2 separate regions of the Homo sapiens genome follow, and region 2 is linked to region 1. Evidence: fine-mapped expression QTL. A gene starts in region 1. The other region holds a variant in brackets. All regions are shown on one strand. Distances are between the middles of the regions. Region 1 holds the start of TP53I11 (tumor protein p53 inducible protein 11). Region 2 has its middle 50 kb from the start of PRDM11.

Region 1 (11,822 bases):
TGGGGGGGCGTTTGGTGGACGTGAACTGAGCTCTAACCCATCTTCCCCATGGCAACTCCCCCGGAAAGTCCCTGGTGGTCGCCAGCATCTGGACTCCTCTCTGGGGTCCAGCCTCCCTTGGGTTAAGGCCCTGCGACTCCAGCAGGACTTGGGGAGGGATGCAGGGAGACCCATTGTTCTGTTATCGCTTTAGTACAAAATAGCTGGAAATGGGGTCTGGGACAGGGCAACACAGAGTTGGGGGGCGGGGTGCTGGCAGTGAGAGCCAGAGCCTCAGGCCCCCGGCCAGAGAGAAGGGGAGGCAGGAGAAAGAATCTCTGCTCCCTGGAGGGCGGGACGGAATAGAAGGTCCAGAGCTTGCGTCATCCGCTCCAGCTGCGGTCCCTCCCAGGGCTGCCGTCGGCCCCTTGGGCAGGATGGAGTCTAGAGATCCCCTAGCCCAGAATCTATTGCCTGGGCCATCAGGCAGTGAATCCACTTGTCAATGGCTGTACTGGAGAGGCTTAGGGACTAAGGGACTTGTGTTCAGATCTTGGCTCTGCACTACTAGGCTCGTGCCTTTGGGCAGACAAACTCCTCTTTGAAGGAGCCTCCCTTCCTTCCACCGTAAATGGGGCGGTGGTCCCTGAGTCACAAGGCTGTCCGGGGGCTAGAGAGATAATCTAGAAGTCATGGGACACAAAAGAGGCTTTATGAAAGCGGCTGCACTACTGACATCCTCACAGCGGCCTCTGGGGTGCAGGTTTCATCGGAGGCCCACAGCTAAGGAGGAAGCTGAGGCGAGGCTACCCGGTGGATGGGCCTTGGCTGGCTCCAGCTGGCTTGCTATCAGGCCATCCCTCGAGAGCATCATTATTCCAAAGGCTGGGGCTGCCTTAGTCAGTCTTGTCTCTCAAGCAGATCCTGAGCCAGTGGAGGGCGGAGCTGCAGCATCCGTCTTCCTCATCATCTCAGCATCACCACTGGGCTCAGTGTCCAGGCTGCTGCAAAGAGTGAGGACAGAGCGGAACTGGCCGGGAGAGGCAGGCGCAGGATGCGAGTCCCGTGGCAGTGGCAACCCCCGTCTCCATGACACAGCTCTGCAGTTGAGAAAGGTTCCACGCCCCATTTCCAAGAACCTCCAGGAACATGTGCCCTGAGATCTGGTAGTGGAAGGTTTGTCCTGGAGCTGGAAGGTGGCAGTGTGTCCTGAGTCACTGGGCTCGGAGACAGGACAGCTGAGGTCACAGGCAGATTCTGCCATCACTGGTAAGCCAGGCCCTGTCTTTGGGGCTCAGTTTCTTTGTCTAAGAAAATGAGAATGTGGTCTCTAGGGCCCCTCCCAGCCCTGCCTCACAGCGGCCACACTCCAGGTCCCTGCTGGGCCCCAGCTCAAGCTGCCTCATCCCCAAGACCCGCCACCCCTCAGCCTGGACTGGCACACAGGTCCTATCTTCCTACTCTTTCTTTTTGAAGGGGCCCAATTTCCAGAAAGGCAGAGGAAAGCCCAACCTTTCATCAGAAACATTTCCAAAGCTTTAGGGACAAATATGAACATTCCTTACTGTGCTGAAGAGGGCGAGAGGTCAGGGCAGAGCAGGTGGCAAGAAGGAGGCATTCCTGGGCTCCTCCCCCGGGGGTCTGAAGCTGCTGCTGTGGGCAAGGGGATCAGGCCCTCTGATGGCCTCCATCACCGCTCAGAAGTCACTGGGAGGTTTTTCCTGTCTCGACGGTCATTCACATGGGCAGAACATGAAGAATTCCTGTCCTTTTCGACTCTGAGAATAGGCCAGCCTGCCCCTTGGCCCAGTGACCATGTCAGGGCCCTCAAGGGCAGCTGGTGTCGTCATCAGGACAGCCTGACTTCCAGATCCTATCGGGCTAGGGGTCTGGTGAGAATGCAGCAGGCACCTCCCTCTCCGACCTGCACCCCACTCTCCCCATGCCCCTCCCCCACCCCGTGGCTGTTCAGGAACTTAGAGGGGAGAAGAGGGTGGGAGAGGAAGGGAGAGGAAAGGACAGGAGCTTCCTCGAAGGGATGCTCCACATTTTGAGCCCGTTTCTTCAAAAGCAAGCGGTGATTTGTCTTCTGGGTGAGTTGGGGGAGGCAGGTGGAAGGGTCCCTGCCCTTTTCGCAGGATAAGATGGGCCACAACCATAGTCCAGGACTGAGTGTCTCCCCAATCCTGGGGTGCTGGCTTAGTGGTTAAAGGACTAGCTCATGACTTAAAAGGCTTGTGCTCCATCCTGGCTCTACCACTGATGAGCTGTATGCCTTTGGGCCAGTGACTCTGCCTCCCTGGGCCTCAGTTTCCTCATCTGTTAAATGGGGTGTAATAATGACACCAACCTCTCACCAGTGAGAAGATGCACCAAAAAAATCCAGAACAGCGCCTGTTTTGTAGTTAATGTTCAATAATAATGCTGCTCATTATTTTTAGACTAGAAGACTCTACTTCCTTGCCTCAGTTGCCCCCTTGACCAAATCTGCCTCAGAGCAGGTCCCCTTCTAGGGATCATGTGCCAGGTCAGAGTTGGGTGCTCAGAAGGGACTGGTCATAGGAAGGAAGTGGGATGAGAGAGAGCAAGGGTCACTTTGGGGCAGGAGGACGATGCTGCGCTGGCCCTGGGAGGGGTCCAGCCAGTGTAGCAGGATAAACAGTGAGACACAGGGTGCCGGGGAGGTATCGTGGACCAGGAGTCAGAACATCAGGCACCCCGCCCTGCAGCTGCCTCTCCTGGCCTGTGTGTCCTGGGGTGACTGACATACTGTCTCTGAGCCTCACTTCCCTCACCTGTGAAAGGGGAGGAATTCATCCCTTCTCAGTCACTCACTCTTCCTCAGCCCCTCACTCCCTGCTAGCTGCAGGGTAGGCACATTCCAGCCTCAGGGCCTTTGCATGGGCTGTGCTCTAGCTGTCTACACAGCTCACTCCCTCATCTCCCTCAAGGCTGTAGCTCAAAAGTTACCTCCTCAGGGAGACCTCCCTGACACCCTATTTAAAATGACAACCCGGTCCCTGGCCTCAATACCCCCAACACAACTTTTCCCCTTCACCTCTCAGTACACTATATAATTTGCTTATTGTTTTTATTAGGGAATTGCCTCCCCCTGCCCCCTGCTTTTAAGCATCAGCTCCATGAGGACAAAAATTTTTATTTTGTCCACAGCTGTCTCCCCAGTGCCTGAAACTGTCCCTGGCACTTTGCTCCATAAGCCATTTTTGGTGTAATGCTCACAAACATTTTGTTCAATAAGCAAAAGTAAAGAACAGCCCCAAACTGTGTGACTATGGGGCATTCCTGTTAAATCCAGCCCCCTCCTCCCCCATACCCCAAGAGGGGCAGGCCCTTCTTCCCACAGAGGTGGGGCTATCAAAAGAAATTGGGAGGCTGGGTGTGAGCTGGAGAAGCCACAAGGGGCCTGGAGGCAGAGCTGTGCAGAAAATAGGTCGCAGTCCTAGAACTGGCAGGTCATGACAGCTGGACATGGGTGAAGGGGCTTTCGGCCTTAGCCCTCCACTCCAAATTTGGAAGCACGGAGGAAGTTGACGACATGTGACTGGGAAAGAAGCGGCCATGGCAGGGGCCTCCTGGGATGGTGGGGACAGAGGGGGCCTCAGGAACAAGACGACCCATTTTACAGATGGGACAACAGAAGCCTGGAGAATAGTCTTATTTCCTAACAACCCAACAAGAAAAATCTTTTCTCTCCTTTCTCGAAGTCTGGGGCTGAGGCTAAGGAGCGGACAGTGCCCCCTCCTGGCTCTGCAACAAAACGACCCCCGCGTCCCTGGGATCTGCGGGCCGCAGATCCTGGTCCCCTCTCCACAGGCCGTCAGGGGTGGAGGTCCAAGGGACCACATAGTTGGGGTGGGCAGCCCCGGTGACTTCTCCCCGCAGGCCCGCCCCGTCAAGAAGTTTGTTTGAAAGAAACCAATCAGGAAGTGCAGGGTAGTGGGGCGGTGAGGGGGCCTTGGCCAGCCGCTCTGGGCTTTGGAGGAGCCTGGGGGTTCTTGGCCTCCGCGCTGCTCTTGCCCCAGCCTCCATCTCTCCGGCGGAGAAACCCACTCCCCCCGGGCTCCAGGAAGAGGCGGAAGCCCGAGACTGGGTCAGGGCGAAGGAAGGTAGAGCGAGGGGACCCAAGGCGAGCGCCCCGCCCCGCCCCGCCCAGCGGGGCGCGCCGGGGTGGGCGCGGCGTTCTGGCCCTTCCTCCACACAGCCTCCCCCGGGTAGGTGCGAGTGTTCTGCCCACGGCAGGGGCCCTAACCCACCCAGCGCCCGGCCAGTGGCCCCACACTGTACCCTTCCTGCAGATCGCGCGACTTTGGGGAGAGTGGGGGGCGTCTCCACCTGTGCGTCCCCTACCCACCCCCTAACTGGGCTAAGGCGCGGCCTGGGTTTCTGCCCGCCCCTTTCCAGCCTGGGGACGGGGGACTCTCTCAGCCTCGCCCCTCCCCCTGCAATCTGTCCCTGATGTCCCCGCTCCAGACACTCACCCACTTTCTGAGACCCAGGCCTCAGCGCCGGTGTCCCCCGGCGGTGAGCTCCGAGCCGTTAGGCGGCCCCGGGTTCTCCGGCCCAGGGCCCCTGCCCCCAGGCCCCCACCCCAGAAGGTCGGGCCAGACTTGTGGGCAGCGGGAACTCCGCCACCACCTCCGTCCGCGGCCCTGCGGGGGCAAAGACTGGGGGAACTCGCAAGTTTGCGCCGCGCACTCCTCCTGCCGGGAACAATGGCGGGAGGGGGAGGGGACAGAGAACCGAGCGCGGGGGACCGAGTCAGACCCCGGGGAGACAGAAACTGCTTTCGCTCCGTTTCTCTCCTGCTCTGAAGCAGAAAGCTCGAGCCCGAGAGGCAGTGGCCGAGGACGAAATAAGCAGTCCAGGAGGAGGGCGACCGCGGAGCCGGGGGAGAGGGGAAACCGAGTCAGAGGGAGGGGCGGCGAGGGGAGAGCGCGCAGGGGAGACGGAAGGGGCTGCGGGACGGCGCCTTGGGGAGCTGGGGAGGCGACCCCCTGGGGTCCCAGCGGGCTCAGCGGGTGCCGAGATGTCCCGGGGCGCCCGGTTAGCGCGCGCGGGGTCCCGGCCGCCCCTCTGCGGTCCCGTCGGCCGCAGGAGCCCCGCTGGGTTGCGCTGCGCAGGCGGCGGGCGGCGGGAGGGGAAAGTCCGCGGCTCGGAAGCGGCGGCGGGGAGCAGAACTTACGGGCCTCGCGCGTGCCGGCGCTGGGCTACGTGGAGCTGATGCCAGGCGGAGGCTCCGGGCTCGGACGCCTCACATCGCGCCGCCCGTGCCGGGCCGGGCAGTGCAGGGCAGGGCAGGGCAGGGCAGGGCAGGACAGGGCAGGGCAGGGCAGGGCCGGGCCGGCTGGACTGCGCGCGGCGCCCTGCGCGGCCGGGGCTTACCGAGTCTGGCGGCCCGCGCTGGTCCCTCCTCTCGGTTCCGCGCACAAGCCAATGGCGCGCCGTCCCCTCCCACGCGCCGGGCTGCCTCGCCCCCAGGGTGGCCGCCGGGGCGGGCGGGATGGGGGTTGGCGGGGAAACCAGGCTCCCGGCTCCCCCGCGAGGCTCTCCCGGGGGCCGCCTGCAGGGGGCGCACGCGCGCCCGAGAGAAGGCGCCGGGGGAGGAAGCCGCGCGGGGAGACCCTGGCGTGGCCCGCGCCGCCCAGGATGACTTTCCTGGCAAGTTCTGCAGACGGTGCCCCTTTCTTGGGACGATCAACGTAGATGGGCAAACCACACCATCTTAAATAGCCTTGCGGTGTCTCCCGGGCCCAGGCCGGTGCCTGAAATGGAAGGGACTGCTTTGGCTGGCGGTGATACCCAAGTGTGTAATAACACAGTCACGACAATAGTCACCGTTTGCTGCGCACTCTCTGATGCCAGACACCATATGCTAAAGGAGTTACAAGTATTAACTCATTTGATTTTCACAGCAACCCATAAGGGCGCTGTGCTTAGTCCCATTTTACAGGCCATGGTCGTTAAAGTTTGAGTTCACTCAGCCTTCAGGCTTCCAGCCTAGGCCCACCCTTCTCTCTCCCTGCTTGGTGTGACTTGGCCAAATAACATGACCCCACTGTCACTACGGCCACCTTCTTCATACTCCACCCTAAAATCCAGCCTCAGAGATGCTGCTGTCAGTTGCGCTGTCAGGAGGCTAGGATCTTATCTGGGGCTCTAGGACGCTTGTTGGCGCTACAGTTGTCAAACCTTTTGTCTCTACACATCCTATGGGGGGCTGGGGTGAGGATGAGGGTTGGGGGTCATGGAGGCTCTCTGGTGGCGTGTCAACCTGAGAGAACCAGGCTCCTACAGACAAGGCCCCACCCCCAAATTCTGGGCTCCTTCAACCCCTTATGGTGGGAAAATAATGTGCTCTCTCCCACCCCAACCCCCACCACCCTGTGCTCTCCTTAGAGAAATGCCTGGATCTCTTTCATCTGATCTGATGGTCACAGTGGGCCAGGAACCGGGGTGGGGGGCTGCGGGAAAAGGAAGGCAAGGCTGATGACATGCTCCATTTCACAAGTAAATAAGACAGAAAGAGGTGAGTGGCTGCCTCAGGCATCTAGCTAGGTGGGCATTCTGACTCCAGGTCTCGGTTCTGTCTGCACCAGTTCCTTAACGGTTAATAGAGCAGGCTCTGGAACCAGATCACCTAGGTTCAAATCCTGACTCTGCCTTTTAGTGCCTGTGTGGCCTTGGACAAAGTAAGTCACCTAGAGCAACCAATAGTAAGAACCGGCTATGGTTGCTGTAGAGATTTAGAGTTAATAGGAGCTGCTCATGTTTACTGTGCATGGACTCTGTGCCATGCAGGCTCCCACTGTCCTCACCAGAGCTGGGATTGGGCAGGAGAGTCTGTGCCCTTGGCAAGGAAGTAAACAGAACAGTCCTTGGTTCATAGTAAGTGCTCAGTGAATATAAACTGTCCTGATTACTAAGGTAGATAAACTCTGATGCCCCAGTGCCACTGACACTGCCCCCAGCCAAACACCTAGACAGTGATAGCCAATAATGAATGAATCAATCAATCAATCAAAGTATGTGACTCTAGATGAGGATTATTTTTAAGGTGTGTTGGGTGGAGCCATCTGACTCAAGGCTCTATAGTAATTTCTGCAACAACTCAGTCTCACCTCACTGCCTTTACAGAGCTGGGCCAAGCTGGGTTGATGAATTCATTTGTCACTCCCTCTTCTGCCTTTCTGGCACTCAGGGCTCTGGATTGCTGAAGGGAGGGCCCCCAGCGTCATTCATGTGCAATGTCCTCCCAGACTTGGGGACACCTGCCAGTGCTCTGCTTGGTGTAACCCTAAAGACTAGCAGCAGGGTCTGTGCTTGTAATCCCAGCCAGCCTGATCATACATCAGTGGGAGGCCTTTGTCACAATCACTCCAAGTTTTCCAACATGGAAGAGGCTGCCTTAGTTGTCATGAATGAGTGCCCTGTCACTAGCAGCATGCAAGCAGAATCCAGGGAAGGGTTGATGAGGACAGCAGAGGAAGAATTCCCACCTTAAGTGGTATTTGGAGTGGATAACCTTTGCCCTCTGGGTGTCTGTATTCTCTCAGTCTCCTTATCAACGGGGAAGCTGGGGAGGCTGGGAGCTCAGGCTGGGCCAAGGCTGCCCCACCATCCTTTGTGAACGAGGCCATCCTGACAGTGCCTCACCCTTATGCCAGGCAAGGTGCTATGTGCTGGGGCCCCAGGGGTGAACAGGACAGTGTCCCTGTCCTTGGAGAGTTCACAGCCCCCTTGTAGATGACTGCACAGATAGTCAACAGCAGCAACAGTAACCGCTCAAGATAACAGGCAAAGTGCTTGGAGGGGGACCAGGGGAGAAGCAGCTGGCTCTATCCATAACCCCCTGCATCCGCTCTCCAGAAAGCACCCATTAGAGGCTCTTATTGTCTTCCTCCCTATATACTTTTCATTTATTTATTTACTTATTTATTTATTTTGAGATGGAGTCTCGTTCTGTCGCCCAGGCTGGAGTGCAGTGGCGTGATCTCGGCTCACTGCAAGCTCCGCCTCCTGGGTCCATGCCATTCTCCTGCCTCAGCCTCCCGAGTAGCTGGGACTACAGGCACCCACGACCACACCCGGCTAATTTTTTGTATTTTTAGTAGAGTCGGGGTTTCACCATGTTAGTCAGGATAGTCTCGATCTCCTGACCTCATGATCCGCCCGCCTCGGCCTCCCAAAGTGCGGGGATTACAGGCGTGAGCCACCGCGCCCGGCCCCTATATACTTTTCTAAAGTGATGTGTCCAGTTCAGAAACATCCCTTAGGCAGCCATTCTGCCCTCAACTCTTCTGAGTTACCTGATCTTTACACTGGGCATAAAAAAAAAACTCACCTCACTGGGCTGCTGTGAGGAGTAACATTGACATTCATTAAGTGTGCCCCTAACGACAGGCAAGAATAGATGCTTGGTGCACGGTAACAATGAGGAGTCATCATTATTCTAGGTGAGAGTGAGATAAGTCGGCTAGGACCTTGGCTCTGCTCCTAAGTAGCTATACGACCCTCGCCTGCACGGATATAAAAATATCTGCCTCATAGAACTTGTGAGAGTCAAGTGAGGTGATTCGATGAAAAAGGTTTGCAAACTGGAAATGCTGATTCCTATTATTGACATTATTATTGTGATTCTTACCTTGGTGAAGTGTTCCTCTCAAGGCCCCAGGGGGGTGGGGATGGGAGTGGGGTTGGGGATGGAGCCAGGAAGCAGCCAGCGGCTGTTGCAGGGGTGGGAGGGTCACTCCTCCAGACTCCCACAGGAACCTGGGAGCAGCAGGGGCTCCATCTGCCCTGGTCGCCCTCCACAAGCAGGGGCAGCAACACCTCCTTGGTGGCCAGGTGTGAGTGAGCACTTAAGAGTGCGCCTGTGTGTCTGTGTTTGTGCCCCTGCAGGAAGGTGTGGTGGGCACAGGGATTGCCAGTGTCTGCAGCCAGAAACCACTATGGACGAGGAAGAATGGGGATGTAATTGGATTTCAAAGATGCTTGGAGTGAGACTACTGTTATCACCTGGGACTGCAGGAGAGAGGCCTGCGGAGCGGGGGTTGGGCCTAGTCTTTGGGGTTGGGGCCAGGGGAAAGGTTTCAGCACTGATGGGCACGTGTGGAGGAACATGATGTTGTCAGAGACCTGTTGTGGTTGAGCCCAGGGATTTTGGACCTGACAGATCTGGGTTCAAGTCCTGGTTATGGGACCATGGGCCAGTGATTTCACTTCTCTAGGCCTCAGTTTGCTCATCTGTAAAATGGTGATAATAACAGGGCCTACCTGGTGGGAGTTATTGGAGGTTTAGCAGAGAGGCTGCACGTGAAGCCCTTAACATGGGGCAGGCACATCGACAGTTATCAATCAGTGCCACTGGTGTTATTATGCGGCAGCCTGGGAGGAGCGGAGGGAGAGGGCCTCAGGAGTGCTGGTGCATTCTCAACTGGAACAGGGAGCTCTGGGGTGAGAGTTGTCTAGCCAGGGTTCATTGAAGCTGGCACAAAACCCAGAGAGAAGGAGCCGCCATCCCACAACACAAGGACTGAGGCAGAGAGCTGGGCTTTCACAACTGCTTCTGGTTCCCCTTCCTGGTTTCCTCTCATTTCCTCCAGAGCTTCGTTCTCTGTGAACCTGCCTGGTGAGGAGAACTCTGTTACACATAGCTTTGGGGACTGGAAGGAGCAGCTGGGAGCTCAGGAACTCCCAGGCAGGCCTCCCCAGTGCTTCCTGCCCCCACCCCTCCAGAGTGAGCACTGACCAGCCCTCCTTCCCCGACCCCACACAACTGCCAGCTGCTTCCCTCCAGTGACTCATCCCCACCACCTCTGTTGCTACACCAGGACCAGGAAATGTCAAGCAGTTTCTTATCTGTGGGAGAGAGAACTGATCAGGATGGGGGTGGAAGAAATGAGGCTCAGATCTCCCCAAAGAAAGTGTATGACAGCTAGGGGACCAGAAGACCATGGCCAGCCCTTTCCTGCTTCCTGTGGGGGAGGGCTCAAGGAGGCAGTATGAGAGTGGGATTTAGCCACTAGAACCATCCTGGATTTAGGTTCAAGGTCCTAGTCCTCTTCTAACCGGCTCTGTGGCCTTAGGCAAGTAACTCAGTGTCTCTGAGCCTCAGCGTGTTCATCTGCCAAATGGAAAGAAGAAAATCATGATGATGCATAGGGTACCTGGGGGGTTAAGTGAGATAGTACATGTGAGTCCGGAGCTCACAGTCAGTTCTCAATGAATGTTCATTGACTCAATTAATGAATGGACATGTGGAAATGGCGGTGAGCTGTGTGCATGTGGCCATCTGCAAGAAATCCACCCTCCACCAGCTGGGAGAGTCGGGGAGATGTCTGTGGACCTTGTATCGCAGGCCTGGGACACTGTTGCTCTGTGCTGGTACTGAAGGGACGGCTTCCAAAACTCAGGGCAGATGGAGTATGGAGTACCCCTTGTCAGCATAGCTGACTTAAGAACCTCAGGCTGGGTCCAGATTTTCAGAGTGCTGAGCCCTGGCCAAGAAAAGAATTGCTATGCAGGGAAGTGAGTAGCAGATTTTGGACCCTCATCTTGGGCGACCCCCAGGACCTCTTCACAGTGAGTGCCCAGAGCAGCCACTCTGGGCTGTGGGATCATAGTCTTGGACCCTGGGCAGCCGGCTAGGCCAATGGCCACCGCTTCACTTGCCTCCTGTCCAATGATAAAACCCCAGGGGCTTTATCATTATTTCAAAAAATAGCATTCTGAGCCCGTACTATGTACCAGACGCTGGTCTAGAATCTTACATGTCATTAATCCTAACAAATCTCACGAAGTTGGTACCATTACTAGTCCCATTTTATAGATGGCAAAACGGAGGCCCACTGAGTTACATAACTTACCCAAGATCACACCCTAGAAAGCAGGGAGGTGGGACTGGAACCCTGGCAGTCTGGCCCAGAGCTCAGGTGGTTCTGGTGCTGCCGCTGGCCAGGGCAGGCATTGCTGATCCCTTGTAAGGCCTGCCACTCCTGGACCACCCCCACCCCAGTGAAGCCATACAGTTTGGGGACAGTAAGTCACCTGCGGACCGACAGGAACATCTGACAAATAGATTCTAGTTTATAAATCTCTTTAGAGTGTATGAGTCTCAAAGCCTACTTGGGGGCAGGAAAATGTTAGAAACACAAATTCTCATTTCCACCTCAGACAACTGAAACTCTGGGAAAGGAAGTCACAGGGGCAACAATCTGTCGTCCAACAGCCCCCCACGTGATTCTGATACAAGCCAAAGATTGAGAACCATTGCTTTAGAATTTGCAAAGCAGATTCCTAGATTATCTAATTTAAATGGGCACTTTGCTATTATTCGGCTCATTTTACAGGTAAGGCTAATGAGTTTCCATTTGCCAGCTATCACCCATCAGGGAAGTGAAGATGGGCCTGGAACCCACACTTTTTGATTCTGGAATATTCTTGTTTGCCCTCCTGGGACCGGGCTGCTGAGCAAGGTGGGTGGGCGAGGGACTCTGAGCTGAAGGGCAGGGTGAAAGACCAGAGGGGAGGGGAGGGAAGGGATTCCACCTCCTTCCCTCCTGGGTGAGGAGCGGGCAGCGTGGATAATTCCCTCGGAGGCGCCCCAACCCAAATCTACATACATAAAGCCCAGGCTGGCGTTTTGAGTGATCGGTTTATTAATACAGCGGGGCCGCTGCCGAGGCGGATCGCAATAACAAAGAAGGCCTCTCCGCCACCCACCAGAGGCGTCGTTATGTAATTGCTCCGAGGAGGAGCAGAGGGCTGGGGCGCGCCGCGGGTGCTGGGGGCTCGGCCAGCAGGGAAGCTGCGATCCGGGTCTC
Region 2 (11,822 bases), 150 kb after region 1:
AAACAGAATTAACCTCTTAGCCTGAAATGTAACGTTTCTCATTGACCAAGTTGAAATTGTCCTATTTCCTTTTTCATTAAAATATGACTCCATTTCATATTTATAACCCATAAGGTTAAAAGTTCAGAAATCAAAGCCCATGTCTGTTAAAATAATACTATGCTTCATTGAAAAAAAATAACCAGAATGCCAAAGTTTGTTCTTTTGGTTAAATAATACATTTTCTAGCATGGCTATGTCTCAGAAACAGTTCTCAAGTGTTCACAATAGCTATAATGAGCCTATTGGAGGAGGTATAGTTCACATGTTAAATAAATAACTACATCAAATAGCTTAGGGAAACACAGTTTTAAAATTACCGTTTGATTTTCTGATGTGGCTACAAAAGTAAACTGAAAAAACAGAAGAAATCACTGTTTTAAGATATAGCAGATTCCTCTCCAAAGGAAACCTACAACTACCTATTCCATAGCTTGCAGACTTCATTCATTCAGCGGGATGATGTAAATAACAATCGGGGGTGTGGGAGGGGCTGGTGTGGATAGGGGAAGCATGGTCAGGAAGTAGCATTCACACCTGGAGAGCGACAAGGTGCTTGTCACTAGAAGAACCAAAGAAAGGGGGGCCTAGGCAGAAGGAACAGCAGGTGCCAAGGCTCAGAGGCAGGAAAAGACTTAATAGAAATAAAAACAAATAAGCAGGTTGGCATTCCCACGGTTGTCCCTGATTTGCTGTGGGAATGCCCGCCTGCTGCGTGCTTCTCATGTTCCCTGTCTGGGCCTTGTGCCTTCTTCCTGAAGTGGAAGGGGGGTCCCAAGGCTTTTTAGAAGCTGCCTCCTTGCCTAGCTTTCTGGCTCCTCTGTCCCCCGTCCCTGGACTCCTCCCAGCCCCCTCCCGTCTCTTGCCTGCCCTCCTGCATCCGATGCCCTGGCTGTCAGGGAGAGGAAGTTAGCTGCAGGCACATACATTTTTTAAAAACCCAGCCATTTAAGGAAACTATGCCTCTAAACAAACACTCAAAGGCCCCCACCTCTTGTCCCTAAGGGAGGCAGCACCAGGGCCAGGTCAGGAATTCCGGGCATGTGGGGAAGGCCCTGAATGGAGGGGAAGGCAAGTTGCTGGTCAGACCTCCTCCCCTCAGAGGGCCTCGCCCCAGTCCTGAGAACCAGCCCTGACTCCTCCAGGACCCCAGGGCTGCTCTGCTGGTCCCAGGCCAATGGGGCCCAGGAAAAAGGCCAGAGTCATTCCCTGGGCATCTGGCAAGAATATGGCGTCTGTTGTTGTTTTTTTCTTTTTTATTAACTTTTTAATTTTTACTTCTTTTTTTCTTTTTTTAGAGACAGGGTCTCGTTCTGTCATCCAGACTGGAGCATAGCGGTGCAATCATGTCTCACCACAGCCTCCACCTCCCAAGCTCAAGTGATCCTCCCACCTCAGCTTCCTCGGTAGCTGGGACTATAAGCATGTGCCACCATGCCTGCCTAATTTTTTTTTTTTTGGTAGAGATGGAGTCTCGTTATGTTGCCCAGGCTGGTTTTGAATTCCTGGGCTCAAGTGAACATCTCACCTTGGCCTCCCAAAGTGCTGGGATTATAGGCATGAGCCACTGTGCCCAGCCTATTTTTACTTTTTACTGTGAAACATACATATAAAATAATCTATATAACGTACGCACATTTAAAAGACTATGTTAAATCGTAAAATAATAATAAATGAAGGCTTGTATAAGCCCAGACTAAGAAACCCAGCCTAAGAAACCTTCCCAATGCTTTCCAAGCCCACGCTTGCCCTGACCCTGTGGCTGCCCCATATCCCCCTGCCCAGGTTAACCACTGGGTTCCGTGTTGTGCTGTGGAAGCCCATGGCCCAGAGACCCAAGAACATGATTGCAGTAAGAAAATGGGAGGTTTCGTAAGCTTGTCGCTGCAAGGGAGTGCACAGCGCAGGGAAACCTCGGTGGTGTCTCAGGGAAAGGGATCTGGAAAGCCCCTGAGAAGATCTAGGCTTGGCTGGATGATTCCAAGGAAAACCAGGAAAGCAAGTCCAGTTCTGGACTGAGTGCATGGGCACTTAATAATTTTGATCTTGGAGGCAGGAGGGTTAAAACCGCACCGGCGTTGTCTGGTGAGCAAGCCACTGTCACTCAGAAAGGCAGTGGAGAGGAAGGGGTGTTTCACCGGTGCTTACTCACTGGTGGGGTCTCACAGTTAGCCTGGTCTGTGTCTATGAGTGTGGTTTGTGGTTTCTTGGAAACGTTATCTATCTGTGAGCACAATTTGTCATTACTCAGTGTTAATCATTGTGCAGCTTTTCTTTATAGTTTGCATGTATACTATGTATCTTGTAGATTTATGTGTGGCTAAATGATATGCTGTTTGTCATCACCACCACTACCCCACCACTGCCACTACAACAACCCCACCACCTCCATTGCTGCCACCATCACCACGACAGCTACGCCCTCACACCCACAGAAGCGGCGGTGTGGGAGGCCACATGTGCTCTAGCTGTTCCATGTGTGGGGTGTGTATCTGTGTATGCTGGGGTGGCTGTGGGGGGAGAGAGGCTATTTAGAGAGTTTCAGGCTGAGCAGCACTGAGGAACCAAGAAGTTGGCTGCAAAGATCTGGGCCTACTGCAAAGATCATTGAGTACCTCCTGCGGTCCCAGTCTCTCTTTCTCTCCTTACTCCTGGATTTATCTGAAGATGAGGGCTGAGTGACCAAACAAGCATGGGATCAAGGGCCAGAAAGTAGCATCAGGCTCAGAGCTGGAGTCAGGGCTGGCACTGGGAGGCCCCGACAGCAGGAGCCTCTGATCCACCTTGTTCCAGCTGTCTTGAGGACCATCTCTCCCGGCAGCATACCGTGTGGCTTCACACTGCTCTGCCTCTCTGAACCTCGGTTTCTTCATCTATAAAATGGGAATAAGAGTAAGCCACCTCAATGGACTGTGGGAGGCTTAAGTAAATTGAAGTGCCATGCAAGTAGCTAGCATGCAGTTGCAGCTCAATGAATGTGAGTCCCTTGTCCTCCTCTGGGGGTGGGCTGGAATCACAGGGTAGTGGGTGGCAGGTAGCAGGAGGTGAGACGATGGGGTGCCATGACCTCTCCTAACACCTGATGCTGGACAGGAAACAGGAGGCTTCTGGGAAGGGCCCGGGACAGATGCGACCTGCCACCCAGGCTGCCCCTGAATGTCCTCTGCCCAGTGCTGCCCCAGCTGCATGGAGGGACCCCAGAGTGGGGCATGGGCTGGGAGGGGGTGGGGGAGGCTGAGAGAGCAGGAGAAGGAAGTGAGTCATGGTGGGGAAGAGGAGAAAAGGCAGGAAGGAAGAACATGCAGGAAGAAAAGAGGGAGAGAGGGATATGACGGGAGGAAAGAGGAGAGGAGGGGAAAGGAGAAGGAAAGGGAGGGGAGGGGAGGGGAGGGGAGGACTGAAGGGAGGAAGTAGAGGGAGCAGAAAATGGGAGGGAGGAAAGAAGGAAGGAAGGAGGGATGGAAGGATGGAAGGAAGGAAGGAAGGGAGGGAGGGAGGAAAAGACGGAAGGAGGGAGGGAAGGAGGGAAGGAATGAAGAAAGGGAGGGAAGGAATAGAGGGAAGGAAGGGAGGGAGGAGGGAGAGAAGGAAGGGAGGAAGGAGAGAAGGAAGGGAGGAAGGAGGGAAGGAAGGGAGGAAGGAGGGAAGGAAGGGAAGGAAGAGAGGAGGGAAGGAAGGAAGGGAAAGAAGGAAGGGAGGGAAGGAAGGGAGGGAGATGAGGAGACACTGGCAGCTCAGTACCTGGCAGAAGGAGATAAACAGAGTCTGGAGCCACCACTGCCCTTGTCCAGCCACCAGCACAGGCATGGGGGCAGGGAACTGGGCCGGCTGGCCTTGCCAACTGCTTAACAACGCCCTTCCCCAACCTGCCACCACAGTGGGATCCCGCCAACCTGCCACCCTGTCTGCTGGGAACAATAGGGAGCTGTCTGAAGCTGTGTCACTGGCTGCCTCCCCCAAAAGAAGGTGACAGCGATGTCTCCCTGCCATGGGCCTCAAAGCCAGCTGCCAGCCCTTCTAAGCCGTGGGGACAGGAATCTACAGCTGGGCCTCCCTCTGTAACAGCTCCCCCTTGGAACCCCTCCACACCCACCTCCTCCTTTTATTTCCTCCAGCCCTCAGCTCCCTCAGCCTGATCTCCCCAGGCATCCCCTGACATTTGGCCTTGCTCCCCGCTGCTATCTGCTCATCATGTTGGGGACAGGAGATGGGAAAGGGCAGTAGAGACAGTGCTGGGGAGTCAGGACGTGGGGTTTCAGTCTCGCCTTTGTCACTGTGGCACAGATGGCCAGCCGTCTCTCATCATCTATTCTCCCCTCTTCCTGATGAACGCACCCCTAATTTGGTGTCAGGCACATGGCAGCTGAGAGTAGAGGCCACATTTCCCAGACTCCTCTGCAATTACATGTCACTATGTGACAAAGTTCTGACCAATGCAATAGAACTGCAACCCCTGGGACATGTCCTCTTGGGGAAAGGCATTCTCTTTTTAACCCTTCTGCTTTCTGCTCTGGAATGCAGATTATGATGGCCGCAGATACGATGGCTACAGCTGGGGCACCCATTTCGGGTCACAAGGTAGGGTTCAATGTTGAAGATGGCAGAGCCAATTGCATCCCTGATGATCGTGGAGTGCCGGGCCTGCCTGAGATGCTCACCTCTCTTCCTTTACCAGAGAGAGAAAGTAAGTTGTTTAAGCTGCTAATGTGGGGGCTCCTCAAAACGCTTGCACTTGCTACTACCTCTCCCTGGAATACTCTTCCTCCAGATCTTTATTCAGGCCCCTGCTTGTTGTCATCTTCTCATTAAAGCCCGCATTGTCCTTTCTGTCTAACATTACCACCCTCCACTCCTTCTCACTGTCAAGTGGAAAACTCTTTATAGCACACGCTGATAGCTCCATTTTCTTGTTTGTTACGGGCTTCTTTCTCTTTCTGACTTCTGCCAGTAAAATGAAAGCTCCATGAGAGCAGGCACCTGCCATGTTCACTGCCAGATCACTAGGACTCGGAACAGCACCTGGCACATAGTAAATGCTCAATAAATCCTTGGTGAATAAATATAGGTGGAAATGAAAGGACTAGAAGTGAATTGACATTTATTGAGCACCTATTGTGTGCAGGCACCGTGCTGGATGCTTTAGGTAAACCATTTCATTCACACGTCTTAACATTTTTAGGTACAAATTGTTACTCTCATTTTTTCACATCTAGAAACTGAAGTTGTGAGATTATAGGTGACATAATCTCAGATCCCAGAGATCTAAGCAGGAGGGTTGTGGGGGTGCAGGCAGGGTCCTGGGATGTAAGCTCAGGTGCCTTGAATCAAGCCCAATGGGTTTTCATTATTCTGGCCAGGCTCTCCGAAGATAAAAGACATCCTCAGATGTTCCTAAAGCCTCCCATTCAGCTTATTCTCTCACCTGCTTGCTAAGCAACTCTGCACCACCTCCCAAGCAGCCTCTTCACTGGCTTTGATTTTTAGTGTCTTTCTGATTATTTCCTGAGGAGATTGTGCTAGAAGCCTGTGGAATCACAGAGGCACTGGGTAGCGTGAACAGAAATGCCTTTTTCTACTCTGAAATGTGAGGACTGACTCCTTCAGGAGGGAGAAGGGAACGTTGTCATTTCCAAGTACATTCTCTGCCAGGCCTGTTTCAGGAACTCCTGCCTGCTCATCTCACATGATCTTCATGCCAATCCTGGCAGGGAGGCAGCTGCGTGGCCATGCACCAGTCTCCTTGCTCCTCTGAGCCTCCTTTTTCTCATCTGGCAAACGGGGATAATGAGGCTACCAACCTGGAAATGTGGCTGAGAGGTAAATGGGATGAAGATGAGGCCAGGGAATTTGGTTTTAAGGTTCAAATCAAGGATATTTCCTGCAGCTAAATAGAAAGCACCTTTACCTTCATCCTGTATGCAGCCCCCCATACCTCCAACTTCAGCATCCTGGTGACTTAATGCATCAATAGCTCACAAGTTTGAAGATTCCCCTGCTCTCCTGAGTCCTCTCCCTTACTGGCCATGTGACCTTAAACAAGTCCTTCACCTGGCTGAGCCTCAATTTCCTTGTATGTAAACTGAAGGCACTGGACTAGGTTCCCTTCCAGTCTGAAATTCACAGGCTTCTCTATCAAGTAAAGTCTGAGGAATAGTAGCTACCAAACGTGAGCATTTGTTACATGCCGGCAGAATTGCCAGCACATTTACCTACATTGTCTAATTTTGTCCTCACCACAATCCTGTGGGAAAGCTTTCATCCCTCCCATTTAACAGGTGAGGAAATTGAAGCTCAGGGGTGGAACAAATCACTCAAGATCACACAGGGGTAATGGGATTCAAACTCAAGTGTCGCTCAGATGCTCAGACCATTGAACTCTACTGCACACATAGAATCAGAATTTATTTTCACTACCATTTTTTCTGGCCAGGCTTTTCCTGTTTAGCTTGTCCTTGAGGACGGAGCTATTGGGACACATCCAGGGCTTAGGACCACCTGTAGGTGAGACAAGCAGGCTACGGAAAGCATGGAGCCGCCTTGTTGGCAACTGGGGCCACAGGCTGTGTTCCACTCTCTTCAGTCCACATCTCTGGGTGATACACTCATGTTTGGAGGTGCCTGCAGTGGCAGGAGGAAGTGGGGAGTGGGGAATATGACAGTTCTCCAAGGAATTTGGAAGGCAGGGGAAAGAGCTGCACAGGCACCGTCACGTCATTGGCAAAGGTGCCAAAGAAATGTCAGAACAAAATGTGCTGGCTGGGATTGGAGATGAAAAATCCATTCGTGGCTGCCCTGAAGCAAATCCCTTCAC[TC/T]CCCAACTACCATCTCAGAAGGAGGAATTAGTCACGTGACAGAGCTCTTCAGCACCATGGACAGTGCCCTAGCGGCACCTTCAGGGAACCCACCCAGGCCTCAGAGTATCAGGCCCAGTGACTAGCACCACAGCTGATGGAGGGGATGGCCTCGTTCCCCTCATCCCCAGGGACTTATCATCTGGGGCCAGGAAGAAGACTGACATGCAAGGAAAACTCACACAGTGCTGGGTGTTCCTGTGTGCTAAGGAAGGACCCTCTGGCCAATGTTGGCCTTGACATCCATTCCTGCATTTGGCCATCATTGAGCAGGGGATGTGTACCTGACTCTGCACCAGACACCAGGGAAGGAAGAGCACAGATGAATGGAGACTGTGCTTGCTCTTGAAAAGCTTGGACTTAGTCGGGGAGACTGGAAACCAATCATTACGAGATAGAGGTTGGCATGAGATGAGGTCAGTGAGGTTGCTACTAATGCTAGTTCCACTTTACAGGTGGGAAACCAGGCCAGGTGACTTGCCCAGGCTCGCACAGCTATGAGGAGGCAGAGCTGGGATTTGCATCCATGTGGTCAGGTCCCAGGATCCATGATTTTAACCACTACCATGACTATGGGGTGGTGGTGGGGAACAATTCAATTAAGTCTAGAAAGGGGCAATGGAGAATTCCTGGAAGGAGTGACACCTGGGTTGTATTTTCCCAGGTGAGGAAGTTGGGGGAGGTCAGAAAGAATAGCACTGTGAAGCCTGAGAAAGGTAGTGCTCCATAGTGGGTATGGGAAAGGGCCACACAGAGGATGTGGGAACAGGAAGGCGGGCGAAGGTGAGGCTAGAAGACCCCCAAGGGTGGGCTCCTGAGGAGTGTTGTACTAAGCAAGGGAGTTTGAGCTGGATTCTGCAGCTCTAAAGAGTCAATGGAGTGTTTCAAGCAACAAAAGAAGGTAATCAGATTCTGGAAAATGGCTGATAGTGTATTGAAGTGGACTGGAGAGGGATCATTGGCAGGAGGGATGTCTAGCCAGAGGGCTACTGCAGGAAGCCAGCTGAGGGAGGGAGGGAAGGCTAGACTGGGGCAGGGGCAGTGGAGCAGCAGGAATGGCACGCGATGCCTGATGGCCTTGAGATTAAGATCACAGGCTCTGGGCCGGGTGTGGTGGCTCACGCCTGTAATCCTAGCACTTTGGGAGGCTGAGGTGGGCAGATTGCCTGAGCTCAGGAATTCGAGAGCAGCCTGGACAACACAGTGAAACGCTGTCTCTACTAAAGATACAAAAAAATTAGGTGTGGTGATGTGTGCCTGTAGTTCCGGCTACTCCAGAGGCTGAGGCAGGAGAATTGCTTGAACTCGGGAGGCGGAGGTTGCAGTGAGCCAAGATCGTGCCACTGCACTCCAGCCTGGGTAACAGAGTGAGACTCCATCTTAAAAAAAAAAAAAAAAAAAAAAAAATCACAGGCTCTGGCCCCACATCTCCTGGGTCCACAGCCAAGACCAGGAGTGAGGAAGCACCTGCCTTACACTGCCTTTTTTTTTTACTTTTTTTATTTTTAATTTCTGTGGCTACATAGCAGGTGCGTATATGTATGGGGCACATGAGATGTTCTGATACAGGCATGCAATGCGCCATAATCACATCATGGAGAGTGGGGTATCCATCCCCTCAAGCATTTATTCTTTGTGTTATAAACAATCCAATTACAGTGTTTTCATTATTTTAAACTGTACAATTAAGTTATTACTTACTGTAGTCACCCTGTTGTGCTATCAAATAGTAGGTCTTATGCATTCTTTCTAGCTTAGACTGCCAATTCTGAAGCTCATGCACTTTACTTGTGAGCTCTTCAGCCTGTCTCAGGACCCAGTTACTCTTACTTCACCCGCTGTTCTGACAGAGCTGTAGGTCTGACTCTCAAATTCACAGCAGATTAGAAGTAGAAAGTTTTATGGGATGGGAGAAGAATTGAGAGGCAGGTGCAGTGACAGCAGGGAGGGATGCTAGCTAATGTCGGGAAACCAAAGATTTTTTATTTTTTTTAAGCATCATAAAATGGCATCATTTGGCAGATTCTGAATGCATCAACACATCCTACATCAATTACACTATGTAATAAAGTCGGGAACTCTATCACATTTCTAAAAATATTTCCATCCAAGGGCTAAAATGAAATTTGAAAGTTTGAGTAATTAAGAGCAATCCCTCAGCCATACTGATTCGCTAATTGTCCTTAAAATCCGAGTGACTGAGACCTCTTTGTACCTTTCAGAACCTTGTCCTATCCATCAGAGTGATGGGGTGATCCTCACACTCACCCCAGGAGAAAAAAATAGGCAGAGGGGCCACCCCATGTCATAGGTGAAGAAACTCATGCTCAGCCTTTCACAGCCTACACAAATGGCTCTTCATTTTCAGAGTCAAGCTGGGAGCCCAGATGTCCTGATTGGCAGCCCTGAACTCCCAGTCCTTCTGTCTGTCTGCTGCTTCTTTCCTCCCTCCCCTTCTCAAGCCATACCCACCCACTGGTGCTCATCATCATCTGCTGCTGCTGATTGGCTGGTGAGATCACCCTGAGCAGCAGCCCTCTCCTCCATAGGTCCGTGGTATGTTGACATCAGAGAGGTTATTTGCATACCCATCAGCCAGTCAACAGCTTCCCATCCTCAACCGGGCAGTTCCTTTCTTTATGGAACTGAGGCTTCTCACTGGGACTGAGCTCATAAGCCACAACAGAAGCCGCCTTTTATTGAACACTTATTATGGGCCAGGCCTGTGCTATATATTTTGCATATTTTCTCTCATTGGATGTGCACAATAACCAGCTTGAGGTAGGAACTGGGTTAGTCCCACTTCTCAGAGAAGAAACTTACAAAGTTTAAGTATTTGCCCAGGGTCATGCAGACAATAAGTAGCAGAGATGGAATCTGCACCCAGGGATATCTAATCCAAATGCTGTATTCTTAACCAGCTCCAGAGTCTTCCAACAGAGGGACAAGTATTGTGGCTTTGTGTGTGTGTGTTGGAAGTGGGGGGGTGGGGATTAATAGGACTTTAGCCAGGGAAAGCAGCTTCTCCCTTTCCCCACACTTCTTGCACCCTAGTCACCTTACTGGGCTGAGAGGTGTGTCTGTTCCATGAGAGGAGAGAGCTAAGGAGAACTTCCAGTTAGGGAGGGGGTGCTGTCAGGCTGCAGAGCAGAGACTTGCCCAGTCCTCAGACCTGGGAGGTCTCCTTCAAGTGTCAAAAGAAGGTATTTGGCCGGTCATGGGCTCACGCCTGTAATCCCAACACTTTGGGAGGCCGAGGTGGGCAGATCACGAGGTCAGGAGATCGAGACCATCCTGGCCAACATGGTGAAACCCTGTCTCTACTTAAAATACAAAAATTAGCTGGGCATGGTGGTCTGCACCTGTAGTCCCAGCCACTCAGGAGGCTGAGGCAGGATAATTGCTTGAACCCAGGAGGCTGAGGTTGCAGTGAGGTGAGATTGCACTACTGCACTGCAGCCTGGGTGACAGAGCAACACTCTGTCTCAAAAAAAAAAAAAAGAAGAAGAAGAAGAAGAAGAAGAAGAAGAAGGCGTTCAGGGCTCAGAGCTAGAGGCTGAGCAGAGGAAGAAGAAGGCGTTCAGGGCTCAGAGCTGGAGGCTGAGCGGAGGAAGAAGAAGGCGTTCAGGGCTCAGAGCTGGAGGCTGAGCGGAGGAAGAAGAAGGCGTTCAGGGCTCAGAGCTGGAGGCTGAGCGGAGGAAGAAGAAGGCGTTCAGGGCTCAGAGCTGGAGGCTGAGCGGAGGAAGAAGAAGGCGTTCAGGGCTCAGAGCTGGAGGCTGAGCGGAGGAAGAAGAAGGCGTTCAGGGCTCAGAGCTGGAGGCTGAGCGGAGGAAGAAGAAGGCGTTCAGGGCTCAGAGCTGGAGGCTGAGCGGAGGAAGAAGAAGGCGTTCAGGGCTCAGAGCTGGAGGCTGAGCGGAGGAAGAAGAAGGCGTTCAGGGCTCAGAGCTGGAGGCTGAGCGGAGGAAGAAGAAGGCGTTCAGGGCTCAGAGCTGGAGGCTGAGCGGAGGAAGAAGAAGGCGTTCAGGGCTCAGAGCTGGAGGCTGAGCGGAGGAAGAAGAAGGCGTTCAGGGCTCAGAGCTGGAGGCTGAGCGGAGGAAGAAGAAGGCGTTCAGGGCTCAGAGCTGGAGGCTGAGCGGAGGAAGAAGAAGGCGTTCAGGGCTCAGAGCTGGAGGCTGAGCGGAGGAAGAAGAAGGCGTTCAGGGCTCAGAGCTGGAGGCTGAGCAGAGTCACAGGCTCTTTGCCGAAAGCCTGTGTGACCTGGGCCGATGTGTGTTTAATGATCCCCAAAGGCTCTTCCTGTCTTAGTTTCTGGAAAGCTGGCTTTCCCGGGGAGATGCTAGCTGGACACAGATGAGGAAAGACTAAAGTTCAGCCTTGCAGCACTCCCTGGGGCCGGCATGAGGGGAAGCACCCCAGCTGGGGCCCCAACACTGCCCTCTGCAATCCAGCCACTCCCAGGAAGGGAGTAGAAGAGCAATAACGTCTTCTGTGGGAGCCTCCTTCACACCGTGCCACAGCCTCCTTCCCCCATACCACCCCAGTCCATTAGGTCCAGCCCCCCTTGCACCGTGCCACAGCCTCCTTCCCCCCTGCCATCCCAGTCCATTAGGTCCAGATGACCTGTGACACACACCCTGGGCCCCCAGCCCTGTGCTGGCCGCCCTGGTGGATGCTGGAAACGCCAGGCGAGCCTCTGGCCACAGAAGGTGGTGCCTGGCCCATTGCACAGGGGCAGCCAAGGTAATCAGTTCAATGCCAGAGCAGTCAGGGAAGGCTTCCTGGGAATGGCAGCAATTGGGCTGGGCTTGCCAAGCTGATTAGTGTGAACTGGTCGACCGAGGAAGGGAGAGCAGGCCTGATGTACAGAAGAGCAGATGCAGAGAGACAGGCAGGACTGTTTACCCTGGAGGGGGAAGGCCCACTCACTGTGTG

Evidence for each region.
Region 2: its variant is fine-mapped to the expression of TP53I11 in whole blood (INTERVAL, PIP above 0.99).

The regions. Positions count from the first base shown.
Region 1 is chr11:44,945,495-44,957,316 of GRCh38, forward strand. TP53I11 (tumor protein p53 inducible protein 11) reads right to left here and starts at 5,389. Exons shown (of 7, transcript NM_006034.5): 1 at 5,183-5,389. RefSeq lists an enhancer at 1-281 and silencers at 5,159-5,288, 5,319-5,578.
Region 2 is chr11:45,091,179-45,103,000 of GRCh38, forward strand. It overlaps a transcript of PRDM11 not described here. Among named protein-coding and RNA genes, the nearest start is that of PRDM11, 50 kb to the right of the region's middle. RefSeq lists enhancers at 10,005-10,545, 10,546-11,084. The variant TC/T (reference allele first, on the strand shown) is at 6,851.